Linked DNA regions of Homo sapiens. The protein of the gene in region 3 interacts with the protein of the main gene of each other region in a pairwise test. Each region holds a gene or a part of one and is shown on either strand. Other genes may lie near its edges. The genes, in order: HAO2, HSD17B4 and ACOT1.

Evidence for each region.
Region 1: the proteins of ACOT1 (region 3) and HAO2 come close enough for resonance energy transfer, tested with the Homo sapiens proteins (one large-scale study listed by BioGRID).
Region 2: the proteins of ACOT1 (region 3) and HSD17B4 come close enough for resonance energy transfer, tested with the Homo sapiens proteins (one large-scale study listed by BioGRID).

The regions. Positions count from the first base shown.
Region 1 is NC_000001.11:119,367,502-119,371,695, forward strand, and holds the start of HAO2 (2-Hydroxyacid oxidase 2), read left to right. Parts: upstream 1-1,283; 5' UTR 1,284-1,401; intron 1,402-1,444; exon of another isoform or gene 1,445-1,507; intron 1,508-2,582; exon of another isoform or gene 2,583-2,830; intron 2,831-4,194. UniProt on the Homo sapiens protein: Oxidase that catalyzes the oxidation of medium and long chain hydroxyacids such as 2-hydroxyhexadecanoate and 2-hydroxyoctanoate, to the correspondong 2-oxoacids.
Region 2 is NC_000005.10:119,500,961-119,504,609, reverse strand, and holds part of HSD17B4 (peroxisomal multifunctional enzyme type 2), read right to left. Parts: intron 2,570-3,649; coding exon 2,518-2,569; intron 1-2,517. UniProt on the Homo sapiens protein: Bifunctional enzyme acting on the peroxisomal fatty acid beta-oxidation pathway.
Region 3 is NC_000014.9:73,540,135-73,544,437, forward strand, and holds the end of ACOT1 (acyl-coenzyme A thioesterase 1), read left to right. Parts: intron 1-1,152; exon of another isoform or gene 1,153-1,167; coding exon of another isoform or gene 1,168-1,273; intron 1,274-1,358; coding exon 1,359-1,561; intron 1,562-2,915; coding exon 2,916-3,521; 3' UTR 3,522-3,662; downstream 3,663-4,303. UniProt on the Homo sapiens protein: Catalyzes the hydrolysis of acyl-CoAs into free fatty acids and coenzyme A (CoASH), regulating their respective intracellular levels. More active towards saturated and unsaturated long chain fatty acyl-CoAs (C12-C20).

The DNA.
Region 1 (4,194 bases), on a different chromosome or scaffold from region 3:
ACAGAGTCGGAGTCTGGAAAACAGCAAGGGAGGGTCTGGATCAGGGGACTGTGAGCAGGCCAGGTGTTGTGAGAGCTGACCGAGGACATGGCCTAGAGGCTGATTATGGAGATTGTGAAAATTGCTATGGAAAAGAAATTTCCAGAACCCAGATTTTGGCTACTTTTGAAAGCATTTTTGAGGTAATACTGTCCTCTAGTGGCTAGATAGCAGGTAGGGATTACCCTCCAAATAAATAGCCAATGAGCCTTGAGTGGAGATGGTATGACAAGTCAGTGGTAAATTCATCATTTTGCTCTCTAACTACAGGTTCTAAAGGAAAGGCAAACCCCACTGCTATGGTCATCGGTACAGCTCAGGATTTCGGCCTCCTCTGCTCCGTGTGTTGGCTACAGGCTAGGTTCAAATCCCAATTCTGCTCTTTACTGCTGAAAGGCTTTGGGCATGTTCGTTAATCTCATTTTCTCTTCTGAAAAAGAGACAATCTTGAAAAGATTGACCTTCCGTGAAGATCAAATGAAGTAATGCGTGTAGTGTGTCTGGCACGTCGTAAGCGCATCACACACGTGAGCTGTGGCAATACTAAGGAGCAGTGGCAAGAGCTGGGGGAGGAGTGGAGACGAACAGACCTGGACAAATTAGTGACCTTTCTGGGACCCCTACAGAACTCTTCTGGAGAAATTAATTCTATTTTTCCATGTACTTTTAAGTTTGCTTTTCCTAGCATTTCTTCTACATTCCTGAATAATTTTCCACTCAAAAATTTCACTGGTTCTCCCTGACTCCCATATTAATCTAGACATAATTACTTCCCCAGAACAGTTCTGTGGGCAGGGAGGGCTCTACACTATGCACCCTCCAAAATCCCCAAAGCTCGGACCGTCCTGGCCTGGGTCCCCACTGCTGTCCTGCCCATGGGCTCCCAGGCTGTGCTTGCTCTTCTCCCACCCCAACCCCATCACCACAAAAAGCCCCTCCTCCAACCCGGGGACTTTTGTAATTTCCTACCTGAAATCATCCACTCCCTACCTCTAACAATCTGTGATGAGCAGAGGACAACATCAAGTTTGAATTTAGAGGTAGGGAATGGGTGATTTCAGGTAGGAAATTACAACTTCACTTTGAAGTTTAATTTTGTAATAAACTTCACTTAATTTTGAAGTAAATTTGCAAAGTCAGCAAAATTCTTTCAAAGTCAACCTTGCTCTGGCCTAGTTGCTTATTTACTGCTAAGCTGGATGTTTTCATTAAAAGATTAACTTTGAGACTTCAGCCTCTTCTTTAGCCTGAACTGTGGGTAGTGATGTGGTGTGTTTCCTAACACCTCCGGCAGTGAGCCAGGCTTTGAGTGGCTGCGTCTAAACACTTCTTTCCCTGAGGACTGGAAGACATTAGAATAAGGTTTGTCATTGAGTGTGTTCTGTGTGCTTGGAACTGAGAAGGGTGATGAAGTGCCAGATAGGATGGGAATGGAAGATATCGTGGAAGCCAACTATGAGTTTGCAAGGCAAGGACCTTGGCAAAGATGGTCCTAGGGAGACAGGTGTTAGGGAACTCAGAGGGCATGGGCAAAGGAAGATTTGGTTTCAAAAAGGATACAGACAGAGAAGGTTAAGTCTAGGAAGTTGAGTCTTAGAATTGTATGGTGGAATATTCGTGGGTGTCCATAGGAGGAAAAATGGGTTAAAATGTTTTCACTTGACAGCGTTCTGAAAACCTAAAAGGTATTGCTATTGCCTTCAGGGATATATTTAGTATTCTGACCACTGCTTCCCGGCCACAAGCAAAAGAAAACAGTGACATGGCTATGCTCCTAAAAAAGTAAAGAAGTTAATGTGTCTCAAACAATGTAGTTCCTTTGAGCAATAAGCTTATTTGGAACAAATGGGTTACAAAGTCCCACTAATGAAGAGCCTCTGATTGTGTTAAGTTGAATCTACAGATCAACCTGCGGAGAACTGCCAAGAACGCTAATGAAGACAGGGAGGTACTGGTATAAAGATAGATAACAGATCAATGGAACAGAATAAAGCGTCCATTAGCAGGAAGCAAAATCCGCAAACTTTTATTCTTAACTACTACTATATTCTGCATTTTACAAGATCCTTCAATTCTCACAAGATCCCTATGAGATAGACAGTAATAACCTAATTTAAAGATAGATGAGAATTGGAGCTTGTCTAGAATAGATTGAGTGGAACATCACTTGTGGTATATCATTTGAGAGGTAATGGGAATATTGCCAAATTCCCAGGTAACTCTCCCCTCAAAGGGACTCCTGTTGTACTCTAAATCGTATCAGCTATCAAATGATGAGCTATGAAAGTCTGTCTTCTTCGACTGTAAGCTTCTTGAGAGCAGAAACTGATGTGATAAAGGTCCCCCCCCATATCTCTAGTGTTTAGCATAATACTTTGATATATTATGTTAAATCAGGCTATGTTATAGTAAAGAATAAACCTTAACAACTTAGTGAGATAACACATAAATATTTATTTCTTCCTTACACAATATCAGCTGATCTCCAGGGCTACCCTTTTCCAAATGGCGTTTTGGGAATCCAAGTGGCCTTTCTCTTACAGCTTTGCCTTCTTGAGGATGGAGGATCGCTGTAGAGGAGGAAACAAAGCTGGAGGGTCACATACCAGCTCTTCAATCCTTGGCCTAGAATTCACACCTGCTATTCCCACTCCCAGGCCATTGGCCAGAAGAACTAGTCACAGAGCCATGCCTGTATTTAAGCAACAGCGAAATGTTAAGCATGTGGGGAGCAGTATATGCCTCCGCCACCCTGGCTGAGAGTGTGTGTCAATAAACCTTCTTGGATAAACTAATGAGTAAATCTGACAGAGGGTTTAAATTATACTATGACAGAAATACTCAAATCCTGAAGCAGCTTTCCACTTCCAGAGCCTCAGATGAAATCACACATGTCATCAACAGGAGGAATAATGAACATGGAGCTGCCTTTATTAACAATCTAGTCTATACAAGGCACTGTTCTAGAAATTTCAAAGGGGCCATACTGCTTAGTCCTCATGGCAGCCCTATGGGATGGATGTTAATATTCTCCTTTAACAAATAAATTTTGCACAGAACCGTGGTGAGCCAGTAGTAGAGCTGAGATTTCAGCCTATGTTTGCCAAGTGCCAAAGCTTATAATATAGTCTGTCTTCTCTACTCCACTGACTCCCTCAGTCATTAGTTCCTTGGGCACAGTTGATCGGTGGAAAGCAATGGCCTTCAGAAACACAGTCTGGGTAGTTGCCGTAGACAGAGAAGCCAGGAGGAAGGCAAAGAGAGAAAAAACTGCACTCCATAGCTGGGCTCTTCCATCCCCAACTGCTCTGCCTTTTCTCCTCTCTCTCCTGCTACAACCCAGTGATTGCCACTGTGAGATATAGGTACACCTGCAAGACCTGAAGTCACTAGTGGACAGAGTAGACGTCAGAGCCTGTTTTGGAGCTTTGTGTGAATTCTGATGTCTGTTTTGCACATTCTATCCTTGTTGAGCAGATGAAGAGGCAGGTGCAGTGATCTCACAGTGTCACATAGAACTCCTTTCCCAATGGCCTGGATTTTGTGGGAATTGACCAAGCTCATTTTATGCAACTCTCTGACCATTCAGAACAGAGACTTAAATGTCTCCCCCATACCAGTAACACTCCATACTGGCTCAAAGACATTGGAAACAAGTCAGAAGGATTCCAGGTCAGGCTTTGCCATTTCTGTTGCATTAGCTTGGATACTCACGTGAATTATCCGAGCTTTAATGTTTTTATCTATAACATGGGGCTCATACATACACTCTCTGATTGCCCACTGGATTGTTGTAAGCACCAAATGGAATAACGTATAGAAGAGTGCTCTGTAGACTGTTAAGACAGATTTAAACATAAGAAGTTATTTTTTAGTGATTGGCTGAATAATTAAGATTTTTTTTAACTTTCTGATTGAGTTATGATTTTTTGAGGGAAGAAAGCAAAGTTGCATATGTCCATGACATTTTAATCCTCTAAGGTCCGTGCCAACTCTGTCATTCCATAAACCACACTTGGCTGTGCCCATTTTCTTCTTTCTATAGTGCTTAAGAGCCAGGCCACTGGAATCGTGACACATTACTAGATATGTAATATTGAACAAAGTATTTTAACCTCTTGAACTTCAGGTTTCTCACCCGTGAAATGGGGATGA
Region 2 (3,649 bases), on a different chromosome or scaffold from region 3:
GCAAAGGACATAACAGACACTTCTCAAAAGAAGACACACAAGTGGCCAACAAACATAAAAAAAATGCTTCATAACACTAATCATCAGAGAAATGCAAATCAAAACCACAATGAGATACCATGTCACATCAGTCAGAATGGCTATTACTAAAAAGTCAAAAAAATAACAGATGCTGGTGAGGCTGCAGATAAAACAGAACATTTATACACTGTTGGAGGGAATGTAAATTAGTACAGCTACCATGAAAAGCAGTCTGGAGATTTCTCAAAGAACTTAAAACAGAACTACCATTTGACCCAGCAATCTCATTACTGGATATATACCCAAAGGAAAAGAAATCATTCCACCAAAAAGACATATGCACTCATATGCTCACTGCAGCACTATTCACAATAGCAAAGACATGGAATCAATCTAGGTGCCCATCAATGGTGAAATGGATAAAGAAAATGTGGTACATATATACCATGGAATACTACGCAGCCATGAAAAAGAACAAAATCATGTGCTCCGCAGCAACATGGATACAGTTGGACGTCATTATCCTAAGTGAATTAATGCAGGAACAAAAAACCAAATACTGTGTGTTTTCACTTACAAGTGGGAGCTGAACTCTGGGTACACGTGGACATAAAGATGGGAACAACAGACAATGGGGACTACTAGAGTAGGGAGAGCAAGAACTGAAAAACTACCTATTGGGTACTATGCTCACTACCTGAGTGATGGGATCATTCATATCCCAAAGTTTAGCATCACACAATACACCCACGTAATAAATCTGCACAGGTACCTCCTGAATCTAAAATAAAAGTTAAAATTCTTTTTTAAAATAATAAAGTTTATATAAAACCAAAAAAAAAAAACAGACAGAAAAGAAAGTACTGCTGCGTTCCTTCACTCCTTCTAGTGGTTATTTTTAACATGATTAGGGTAAGTCAGCCTATGACACTACCACTATAGCCAACAAATGAGCCATTAAGAGATGTTGTTATCAGTCTCCTGATGCTTGACACTCTGTGTCTCATCAATTGGTGTGTTTTATAAACAGTAGTAGATTATAAACAGTAGTCGTGACCTTGGTTTTCTGCAGTTTAAAAGGTTCCAAACCACAAATATCTCATATTTTGAACATTCACATTTACTACACAGTAAATTTTAAAACTGCTTAAAGAAAATGCACAGGCTGAGAAAAAATAATTCATGAGAAATATAACTTGAGGCTAAGGAGGTAAAAAAAAATGAAAAAGTTATTCTCTACACCTTCCTATTCACATCACTGTTCAGTTATCATCACTCTGGAGTATACATCTAATCTCTCTTTTCGTATTTTAAAATCCCTAACGGCAGAAACCTATCTTGCACATTTCTACTTCCCTTATAACAATGGTTTCCAAGTGGACCCATAGGGCTGGGTACATATGAAACATGTAAGGAGCTTCCTAGCCACTGTCACCAACACCACCACCCCACCACATACATACATGCACACATACACACACACACACACACACACACACACACACACACACAATTTCCAAGGTTGGGATTGAGAATCTACATTTTACTTAAATTAACAGATAATATAATGTAATAACTCGGGTGATTTTGATATACAGACAGGTTAGAAAATTACCTACTACCTAATACTGTGCCTTGCAAATACTGGGTATCCAGCAGATATTTGATCAATGCACAATCACCACAAAGTGTACTGTTTCACATAAAAAGAGCTGTTTTGAAACCTTATGCTATAATACTTACACTGAAATAAAGCTATTCAGCTTCAAGCAATAAAAATCTCATACATTTTTTAGAAAAATAAAAAGGTTTAAGAAAAATATTCAAGTAGGATTCTAGCTACTTGCCGACCTCTACATTGTATAACATGAAATGACAAATATTAACAAAACATTCCTTTTTGTATTCTACCACCTTATATGACCAGTATATAATTAGACAACATTCAAACATCAAAGTAGAGAAATAAATATATCCAATTATAGTGAAAAAAATTAAAAGAGATTTACTAAACAAGTAAGATATTTTTGAGAAAAGTAAAAATGATTATTAAAGACTTGTTTTTATTTTCTCCAAAAAAAAAGAAAAAAATGAATTACAAGAAATTCTGTATCTTTTAACATTGTTTGCTTTATGAAAATCAGTATAAAGATAAATACCTGAGAAAAGAACAATAATCATAAGAACCATAACAGATTATATGCAATCACTAAGTCTAGAGCACATACACGAACGTTCCTTTCAGTTGTTAATAACACATACATCAACAGAGATAAATTATGAAATAAATTTTTAAGACTATTAAAGGACAAAGCTTAAGGTGACCAAAACAGATACTAGTTAACATCAGTCTACTCTAATGGCTCACATGTGCATAACAATTTGTGATATGTTTCATTAGGTCACTCTATACCAGTTTAACACACTGATGTTGTTTAAAAGGTTAATCTGGAAATAAAAGTATGGTATTATGGAATTAGTATATCAATAACTCACCTGCTCTGGGAAGTGGTTTATATAACTCTAAGTACTGCTCTCCATGAAGAACCTATGTTAGGGTAAACAAAATTTTATTAGCAAACTTTCTTGCTCCACAGGTTCTGCCTATGGATACTGTTACTCGCAAGTGACATTTTACCATCCACAGGCTCACATTTCTCTCCAAGTTATCTATCTCTGTTTGGCTTCTTCTTAATCATGTGATTGAAAAATAATCAATCCCCCAATCTCAAGACAGTCAGCTCTTCTGGAGCAGAGAAGATATATTTGTGTTCTTTCTTGGCGTTCATAAAGCCTTGTTGACTGTTAATTACATATTATTTGCCAAGAGACAATAAACTAGGCTGTATTCCCAGAACTTATAACAGTGCCTGGAACATATTGGGCATCCAATAAATATTCATTGAATAAGAATGAACAAATGCGCCAGTGCTAGTAATTTCAGGTCACATATACCAAATACAAACGACACAACTAAAACACAAAGAAAAACCTTACAACCATGTTCAAAATGAAAGCACTGTCAATGTGAATATCCCTTTCTTATAATACTTTGTAAATTATCTACAAAGAGTAGATACTAAGGACACTGTGTAACTTAATAGCCACTTAACCTCAATGTATCAAACAAAGAATGCACCAAGGTATATAGGAAAACAACAGGACAGGAAAACCAAAACTTGAAGCATACACTCAAATGATCCCACTTTCACTGCAGAGGGCCAGTTTACCAGTCTTCCTCAGAACCCAAAAGGATTTTAAAAAAAAAAAAAAAGGAAGAAGAAGAAGGGGAGGTGGTTGATGAGAAGACAAATGAAGGTCAGCTTTACTGTGTCATACGGCTTGAAAAAGTCAAGGTTAAGAAGACTAGGATTCAAGTTCCAAGATGCATGAACACCATTTACGATTTCCAATTGTTAGGGGGAATTTTGAAACATTTGTTTTAATTTTTTGCATTTACATTGTTCAGAGTATATAGTAACTAACCATGGGAGTGTGAATGAAACAGCAAACTGCCCAGCACATATTTCTTGTCTTCCTCCCAACTTCATGAAACACTCTAATAAAATAAGTGGCCATCAACTCAGAGCAGCAATGGGCTAACTGATCCACCAGTAAATAAGTTCTC
Region 3 (4,303 bases):
CTCACTGCTAGAAGGAGTCAACATATTCATCTGCTCTGGGCAACAATTTGTCTTAACTTACAAAGTTAAATATGTTATTCTACTTGTACATGTGCACCAGGAGGCATATTCCTTATAAGAGGAAAGCCATTGCAGATGAGCAGTCTGGATTAATTTAAAAAAAGAGCAAAGTCAACTGGAAACAGTCCAAATGTCCATCAACAATAGAACAGATTAATAAATTGAGGTATATTTCCAGCAGTCAAAGTGATTGAACTACAGCTAGAAGAATCAACATCTATCAAGATATACAAAAGAAAAGAAAAAAATAAAAAAGAATCAACATGGATGAATCTCCAAACCACTGTTGAGTGAAACAGTCAAACACTAGGAGAACACATTCAGTATCATTCCATTTAGATACAGTTCAAAAAATAGGCAAAATAAAATATTGTTTAAGGTACATAATCTAAGTGGTAATACTATGAAGAAAACCAAGAGTGATACACAGAAAGTCCAGGATACTGGAAAGAGAGGAAAGGGCACAGGGGTCTGTGGGACGTTGATGGTTTGCGGGTATCAGCACTGAACTATGTCTTAAAAGTGTTGCCTGTAAGGTGTTTGCATTCTTTTTTTTTTTTTTTTTTTGAGACAGTGTCTCGCTCTTTCGCCCAGGCTGGAGTAGTGGCACAATCTTGGCTCACTGCAACCTCCAACTCCCGGGTTCAAGCGATTCTCCTCCCTCAGCCTCCCGAGTAGCTGGGATTACAGGTGGCCGCCACCACACCCAGCTAATTTTTGTATTTTTAGTACAGATGGGGTTTCACCATGTTGGCCAGGCTGGTCTCGAACTCCTGACCTCAGGTGATCCACCCGTCTCAGCCTCCCAAAGTGCTGGGATTACAGGCGTGAGCCACCAGACCCAGCCTGCATTATTATTCTTTAATTTTGTGTGAAACACAAAACCTTTAATGTAAATGATAAAAATATTCAGTAAGTGGAGTCATTCAGAATGAGTAGCCTTTTGAGTCTGTCTCCATTGAATAAGTGCATTCTGTTGAGTGCACTGGAGAGGAATTTGTGCTCTTCTATGTAGCAGTCTTTCTTTTTGTTTCTTGGTGGTGCACCATTAAATGGATTCATTCACCAGTTAAAGGACATTTGGGTTGTTTCCAGTCTTTGGCTACAATGAATAAAGTCACTATAAACACTTGCCAGAAGTTTCTGGACGAACACAGGTTTTCATTTCTCGTGGGTAGATACCTAGGAGTGGGATTGCTGGGTCACATGTGTGGTAAGTATATGTTTAACTTGGTAAGAAACCATCCAACTGTTTCAGGAATAGCTTAGTTTTGCATTTTGTTTTGTTTCTTCCCAAGAACCTGGGCCCTTTCCTGGCATTGTGGACATGTTCGGAACTGGAGGTGGCCTGCTGGAGTATCGGGCTAGTCTGCTGGCTGGGAAGGGTTTTGCTGTGATGGCTCTGGCTTACTATAACTATGAAGACCTCCCCAAGACCATGGAGACGCTCCATCTGGAGTACTTTGAAGAAGCTGTGAACTACTTGCTCAGTCATCCTGAGGTGAGTTCTTCTCTCAGATTTATGGGCTATGATGTATCAGGTCTCTTCTTAAATGGTCTGGGTTTTCACAGAAGTTAGCTCATTCATGACAGCCATTCCCTACCCCAACACACACTACCTTTTTTAGTCACTTCTTATAGACAGTTTCTTTCTTTCTTCTTCTTCTTCTTTCTTTTTTTGAGATGGAGTCTCACTCTGTTGCCAGGCTGGAGTCCAGTGGTGCGATCTTGGCTCACTGCAACCTCCACCTCCCAAGTTCAAGTGATTCTTGTGCCCCAGCCTCCCAAGTAGCTGGGATTACAGGCACCTGCCAACATGCCTGGATAATTTTTGTATTTTCAGTAGAGACGGGGTTTCACAATATTTGTCAGGCTGGTCTTGAATTCCTGACCTCAAATGATCCACCTGCCTTGGCCTCCCCAGGTGCTGGATTACAGGCATGAGCCACTATGCCTAGCCTAATTTTTGTATTTTTTTTTTTTAGTAGAGATGGGGTTTCGCCATGTTGGCCAGGCTGGTCTCAAACTCCTGACCTCAAGTGATCTGCCCACCTCGGCCTCCCAGAGTGCTGGAATTACAGGCATGAGCCACCACACCTGGCCTCTTATAGACAGTTTCTATTCAATTCTATATTACTATATTTCCTGCTAGTAAAGATATTTGTAGTTGGTATTATGCAATTTTAAATTCCAGTATGTTTTTTCTTTCTTTTTTTTTTTTTTTTTTTAAGACGGAGTCTTGCCGTGTCAACGAGGCTGGAGTGCAGTGGCATGATCTCGGCTTACTGCAACCTCCACCTCCCAGGTTCAAGCGATTCTCCTGCCTCGGCCTCCTGAGTAGCTGGGACTACAGGCGCATGCCACTTCTGCCTGGCTAATTTTTGTATTTTTAGTAGAGACAGGGTTTCACCATATTGGCCAGGCTGGTCTCGAACTCCTGACCTCAAATGATCCACCCGCCTCAGCCTCCCAAACTGTTGGGATTACAGGCGTCAGCCACCACGCCCGGCCATGAGATGACGTACTTGTTGATGACGACTCAGTTTAGTTATGACAGTGGGAATGGGTGGCTCAGGTGGGAGACAGAAAAAGATCATGGGAGATAATGAGATTAAGGAACTGAGAAACCAGAGTAATTGATAGATCTTCCACATGGTTATCACCAAGAGTGGTGATGGACAAATTGTGGAAAGGAAGAGATAGAGGGGAGGTAAATTCCCAAAGCTGCAAATCTGGGTAAATGGTAGAACCCAGATTCAGACTCAGGTTCAACTAACTTCCAGGGTGGGCACAACTCACCATATTCCACTGTTTGTGGAGCCATTCTTCTTCTTTTTCCTTTGTCCCTTTCTCAGGTAAAAGGTCCAGGAGTTGGGCTGCTTGGAATTTCCAAAGGGGGTGAGCTCTGCCTTTCCATGGCCTCTTTCCTGAAGGGCATCACGGCTGCTGTCGTCATCAACGGCTCTGTGGCCAATGTTGGGGGAACCTTACGCTACAAGGGCGAGACCCTGCCCCCTGTGGGCGTCAACAGAAATCGCATCAAGGTGACCAAAGATGGCTATGCAGACATTGTGGATGTCCTGAACAGCCCTTTGGAAGGACCTGACCAGAAGAGCTTCATTCCTGTGGAAAGGGCAGAGAGCACCTTCCTGTTCCTGGTAGGTCAGGATGACCACAACTGGAAGAGTGAGTTCTATGCTAATGAGGCCTGTAAACGCTTGCAGGCCCATGGGAGGAGAAAGCCCCAGATCATCTGTTACCCAGAGACAGGGCACTATATTGAGCCTCCTTACTTCCCCCTGTGTCGGGCTTCCCTGCATGCCTTGGTGGGCAGTCCTATTATCTGGGGAGGGGAGCCCAGGGCTCATGCCATGGCTCAGGTGGATGCTTGGAAACAACTCCAGACTTTCTTCCACAAACACTTGGGTGGCCACGAGGGGACAATCCCATCAAAAGTGTAAATTTTATTTGATCATGTGGCCTCTCTGTTGCTAATCTCTCCTGGAAACATCTGCCACATTTAGTGTGTGTATGTGTATTCATTCTTTCTCATAACTTCTTAAAGTTTCTTCCCCTCATTATTAAAATGAATTTACCAGTAAGAATGAGTTTTTAAGATTTTTATAAACTGTATACTTTATCAGTTTGGGAAGGGAGTAACTGTAGGAAACACAAGAAGTGGAAAAAGTCTCCTCTTCCTATCTCAACACACAACTGATAAGGCTTTAGTTCTGAAAGGAAAAGTGAGTAACATCAATTAACAGTGTCTGGTACGTAAATGGAGTTCAATAATTATTTGCTGAATGAGTATAAGTGAGCCAGGCGTGGTGGCTCACACCTGTAATCCTAGCACTTTGGGAGGCCAAGGTGCGCGGATTACTTGAGGTCAGGAGTTTGAGACCAGCCTGGCCAACATGGTGAAACCCCATCTCTACTAAAAATACAAAAAATTAGCCGGGCGTGGTGGCGCATGCCTGTAGTCCCAGCTACTCAGGAGGCTGACGCAGGAGAATTGCTTGAACCCGGGAGGCAGAGGTTGCAATGAGCTGAGATTGCACTACTGCCCTCCAGCCTGGGTAACACAGCAAGACTATGCCTCAAAAATAAATAAATTAATTAAATAAATAAATGATTACCTACTGTGGAAGAAAAGCACATAATATAAAAAGTATATCAGATTTGAGTTTCTCCTTTAAGAATGGAAGTTAACATCTTGCCTATAAACTGATTACTAGTTAGATAT